Regions from separate parts of the Homo sapiens genome. Here region 1 is linked to region 2. Evidence: fine-mapped expression QTL. A gene starts in region 2. The other region holds a variant in brackets. All regions are shown on one strand. Distances are from middle to middle. Region 1 overlaps LOC105373228 (a long non-coding RNA gene). Region 2 holds the start of GREM2 (gremlin 2, DAN family BMP antagonist).

The links.
Region 1: its variant is fine-mapped to the expression of GREM2 in whole blood (TOPMed, PIP 0.94).

The regions. Positions count from the first base shown.
Region 1 is chr1:240,686,645-240,689,566 of GRCh38, forward strand. LOC105373228 (a long non-coding RNA gene) reads right to left here. Exons shown (of 4, transcript XR_949320.2): 2 at 1,321-1,507; 3 at 1-131. Among named protein-coding and RNA genes, the nearest start is that of GREM2, 76 kb to the left of the region's middle. The variant G/A (reference allele first, on the strand shown) is at 1,347.
Region 2 is chr1:240,610,968-240,613,889 of GRCh38, forward strand. GREM2 (gremlin 2, DAN family BMP antagonist) reads right to left here and starts at 1,188. Exons shown (of 2, transcript NM_022469.4): 1 at 917-1,188.

The sequences.
Region 1 (2,922 bases), 76 kb after region 2:
GTGCCCTTGTGCAGATCAACTCAGGTGTTAGTAATGACTATTGTGTGGACAGGAGCTCCGAGATACGTGCTGGTAACAATTAATGTACAGGATTGTACCAAAAAAACAAGTCGTTCATGCTATAAACTTCACTGGAATACAAAAGAATTATAGGAATTGTCTCTTATCGTCAAACACATCACTGTCCTTTGAAATCAAGGGGTTCATTGTTTGATACCTGAATTGTTTATTCACCTGTATAAAAAGCAGGTCACAATTTTTTTTTGTAGTTTTGCCAAGCAACTGAGGGTCACTAAATTTCATAAGTACAGATCACCGCTGTGCTCTCTAAACAGCCTTTGTCCTTAGTTTTAACTCCACAAAATGTCAAGATAACAGACACTAGTCTTTTGGTCTCAGTTTTAATGTGAAATCTATGCCCACAAAATGCCACTCTCAAATTTGTGTTATTAGCTTTTCTGAATCTATTCACCAATCTACAAACGATAAACACTCAGACCTAGTTTCCTTTCTTGGGTCAAAAAGCATTCCCCAAGTACCATTTACATTGAAATCTGGAAATGTGGCTAAAAGTCTTTGTGTGTGTGTGTGTGTGTGTGTGTGTGTGTGACAGGTCTCGCTCTGTCACCCAGGCTGCAGTGCAGAGACCCTTTGAGGCTCACTATAGCCTCAAACTCCTGGGCTCAAGTGATCCTCAGCCTCCCAGTGGTCTTTGTAGACAGCCTGATGGAGTCTCATGGCACAGAAGATTAATTAAACGATGTCTTTTAATTTTAATCAATTTTTGCAATCCAAAAAAAGCCTCATTCGGCCAGGGTGAGGAAAGGATGACAGGATTGTTCAGCGGCGTTTCTACTTGACTTTGTTGTAAAGTCATTTAGGGTAAGGAAACTTGGAGAATCAAACAGCTGGTGTTAAATTGGCTAAGCATATCATTTTCCGAAACTCCTTTCTGATCTTCATTAAGGAAACCAATATATGATGGGGAACTCATTCATAAGAGAGACGAGTGTTCAAGTATTTTATATTTTCAAGGATTTGGAGGCTGATGCCAACACTAGTGCATTAATTGCCTGACATTCTGAGCTCAGGCCCACTACCTTTTTGTTCTGAGGTTTTGACTGATCTATATATTCTGGCTTTCAATAAAGGCCTGTCACAGCAGAAAAACAGAAAAGGGATGCTGAGTACGAAGTCAGTTATTAGCTAAGTGGTTCTTCAGGCTTTTGTTGTTTGCCATGAAATTTGCATCTTGCAAAAACTGGATCTGTGCTCTTGGCACAACGGATGTTTCATATTTGCCAAATAAAGTTTCAGTACCTTTGCCTCTGGTTCACTGACTTCCC[G/A]TCTGTGACGTGCACCTCTTCCTTTTTCTCTGAAGGACAGTAGTAAGTCACAGTGCTCTTCCTGTTCAGATTACCATCTTCAAGTGACTGGCACTCATTGGCTTCAGAAATGCTATTTTTTTTTCCTCCTGCTTCTGGAATGTGACCAGACAAGATCATTCCTATGGCAAAATATGATTGAGAAATAATATTTTAGAGGCTGGGAGATATTGTGTCATGCCACACCAGGTAACTGTCTTAAGTAAAAGACATAAGAAAGACACAATGAATGATATGATGCTTTTCAAGGATCTTTTTTTTTTTTTTTTTTTTTTGAGATGGAGTTTCACTCTTGTTGCCCAGGCTGGAGTGCAATGGCACAATCTCGGCTCACTACAACCTCCACCTCCCAGGTTCAAGCAATTCTCCTGCCTCAGCCTCCTTAGTAGCTGGGATTACAGTCATGCGCCACCACGCCCGGCTAGTCTGTATTTTTAGTAGAGACAGGGTTTCTCCATGTTGGTTAGGCTGGTCTTGAACTCCCTACCTCAGGTGATCCGCCCGCCTCAGCCTCCCAAAGTGCTGGGATTACAGGCATGAGCCATCGCGCCCAGTCTCAAAGATCTTAATGATTGAAACAAATATAACCAATAAGTAGAGATGCAAGAAAAATGTCCATGTGTTTACATGCCAGTTTACATTGAGGAGCATTAAGAATTCACCATTCTTGGTATGTCATTGTAATTTCGTACATATTTTATTTATCCAAATTTTTTCTTTGAGGTAGGATGGGAGGGAAATGATTCACCATAACTACTATTTATTTAGAACACAGTTAATCACCTTCCCTCACCAATAACCTTGCCTCACACTACCTTCCCAAGGTTTGCAAAACTCATTACCAAACAAACCAAACAAAAAGATGAAAAACAAAACAAAACAAAGCCAGAAACTCTATTCTGTGTAAGAGTTATTAACCTGTCATACGTGCAAAATAATTATGAGTGAAATTTCATGAATGGAATGGAAAATCATGCATTTGTATTCGGGGGAAGAGGATGCATAGCATTTTCCAGATTCTCAAGGCAATTCAATGCTCCCAAAAGGTTAAAAGCCACTGCAATTGAAATTGCTTTTTCTTCAAACACCTCCAGTCTCCTTTTCCATGTAAAGTATTGAAGTTTTAGGCCTCTGCTGCTTGCCTACACTGCAATCATTTCTTTTTATTTTCTAAATTATCAAAATAAAGGGATCATGTTGTTCTACATTTCTCGTTTTTACTTTATCCTTGTCTATGTCTGGGTGACTTTCGGAAAAGCAGAAATCCGTGTCTGGCCTCTCATCTGACTCTTTTAAGGCTGGCAGAGCGGTGTCTGCCCATTCCAGTTGTTAACAGGATTTTTCTTTTTCTTAACTCTTAATCTGTTTCTGGGAAGCTTTTAAAATACATTTTCCCCCTTCTCTTTCAGATATCCTCAGCTTCCCTAGCTCAGGGGGATTCATGCAAATTGTGTATTCTCTGGGGGATGCATTGCTGGTAGATTCTGAAAACGTCTCAGCTTTTTTCCTCCCATTGTCAAATACAATGATAATTTCA
Region 2 (2,922 bases):
CAAGTCATCAAGGGGTGGGGAGTTATATAACTATCTTTAAAATTTCAAATCAAACATGATAAAATCTCAGGAAATAGATTTTTTTAACAAAACCCACACCTCAAAATAAAAAAAAAAAAGAAATAGAAGTTTATGAGTTTTAGGATCAAATAAAATAAAATCAAACATCAATATTTTCTTACAACTATCACATCTACTAGATAGTTCCAATTCATGACTTTTTAATGTAGTAATATGTGAGATCCTGGAACTGAACGTGCCTGGCGTGCAGAATACAAATGCATTTTTAAACTCGTAAGACAATGTAGAAATAAGTCAGGTACACAGGAAGGATCACTGACAATCACGTTAAAAAATAACTACCTCCCTTCTCTCTTCTCCTTCAACCACAGCGTAGTGATAATAGTGATATTTCCCTCATGAGGCGGGTGCACCTTGGCCATATGCTTTAAAAAATCAAAACTCTGCCGAAGTCCGCTGTGGTTCCTATTCCTGTAGGGAGGATATTAACCTGGTAGGTAGGTGGGAGAGGTTCGTAGCCCGCTTTCTAACAATTGGATGGTGTTTGCCTCGCTATAGTCATGATTAGAATGGCGGTCACCAAGAGGTATTTATTGGTGGGATGACAACATATTGGTATTGACGTTATTTAAAAGAGAAAGAAAGAGCGATCACGGTCAAGTTTGAAGGTCCTTATGTTACACCCACGCATAATTCAATAGGTGAATAAACCTTGTGGCCCCCAGACACACGCCAACAGCTTGAATTACCCGGGGTGAAACCGGCGAGACGTCCACTCAGGGCTTTCGGTCCTGACCAGCCACGGAACAAACAACGTCAATTCATTCTAAGTGCCTGGTGAAGGTAGAAATCAGAAACCGTGTCTGTGTCACGTTAGTCGTGACAAGCTGCGTACCTGCAATGACGTGATGGAAGCCTCCTCCTCGGGTCCCTTCTCTCTCTCTCTCTCCCTCTCCCTCTGCCTTCTCTGAGTTCTCTAGTCCACAGCGGGGTCTAAGTTTGGTCTCCCGCCGCCGCTTTCAGTTCGACCGCAGCCAGACTGCAGCAGACGCCCATAAGAGAAGCGCGCCGGCTGAGGGTGCAGGAGAGGCGAGAGCGCGCCCCGCGCCGCGCGGTCCCAGGCTGGCTGCTCCTGCAGATGTGAAAGGAGCCCGGAGACTTAGCTCTGAATCCTCTCGGCGCTGCATGGGGATATTATCAGAGTCTGGGATTTCTATTGGCTCTGAACACCAAACAAATCACACCAGCCACCCCCCTTCTCTGTTTCACTCAGCGCTTGTTTCTCATCTAACCCACAAACATTGCAGCCACACCACACACTTCAGTCGCTTGCAATGTTTCTCTTTTCCTCCTTCCAGTCAGTGGATTTACAACCCTGTGGTCAGCTCTAACATTTTTTTTAGCAGACTTCCAATTCTAACCTTCTTGTTTATGTAGAGAAATTCTCCCTCCATCCCCTAAACCAGAAAAAAACAAAAAACAAAAAAAAAACACTCATTCCCTTCAGATCTTCTTCCTTTTGCTGATGGGTTTCCAATGTGAAGAATGTAGAAAGCCTGTGTGTGATATGTCTGACATTCTCATACACGTGCGCTTACACACACACACACACACACACACACACACACACCAGGCTCCTTTTGTTTGCAGTAACTGAGGCCAGTGAAATAAAAAGCAAGCTGAGCCTAATAACCTAAGTGAGAGCTTAACTAATAAAATCTTGAATGAATTCAGTGCAAAACACCCATTGCTTGAATTTGTTTTCTGTTCCAAATAGTACTTTGGTCATTATTATCCTGATTTTTGTTTATTGAATGCAGAGGTTTCTAATGCAAATCAGACTCTTCAACATCCAGAGAACATAAAACAATGACGCCAGACCAATTCTTGTGCTCCATCGGCTTGGTGCGTTATACCAGAAGCGTATTGTGACGCCTAAGTGCTTGCTCTTTTCATTATTTTTTGAACTTCTCACCACTGATCATCTCAGGACTGAGACTCCCTTAGTGTGATTCACCAGCCAAAGACGACTATTCAGACTCTGCTGATAGAGGTTCCTGGATGAAAATTTTTTATCTGTATGTGTCAATAGAGATAAACCTTTGGCCCCTTGGCAGGGAAAGGGCCCAAGAAAAATCTGAGATCTTACAAACTTGGCTGGGGAAATTCAGAATAAAATAAAGTTTCAGTGTGTCTTATAAAACAGACCCTCCCTTAGACTTTTCCCCAAAATCAATTTCACTGGTGCTTATGGAAATTTTAATGACAGTTATTCTTGACAAGAAGCCATTGCTTCTGAAATCTCTGAGCTCTGTTTTGATTTTTGACTTGAATTTTTTTTTTGCAGTGTTATCCCTTTTGTATGCTATTTGGTATTTGATATTCTAGTTCCAACTCAACTCACAGCACATTGGGTTGCAAATTCACAGGAAATAACAATTAGTTCTTGAAATATACTATCACCAAACAGACTACCTGCCTTCTTTCTTACGTGGGCACATTACAGGAATTGTGAAATGCAGCCTTATTCTCAGAATGGGCCTGCCTGAAATCAGCTGAAATTGACAAAGGAAATACAAAACAAAACCACGTTTAGCAGTTGGTTCCTGCTAACCACAGTCTAACCTCAAATGGCATATCCTTATTGCTTCAACAACTCCAGTTCATTCCCTTTCTTTAGGTAGGCAGCTAAAAACAAAATACTGTCATAAATCTTTGAAAGTGTAGAATGTATTTCTTCTAAAGATCTCAACAGTCTTCGAAAAAAAAAGGAGTTATAGGTATGATATTCCAGATTTTCCAGGTGGAGAAACAGAGTGGAGGAATGATAAAGTGACTTGCTGAAGGCAGACAGCAAATAGAGCTGGGAGAGTGGATGACTGCCCTGTTTGTTCATACAAA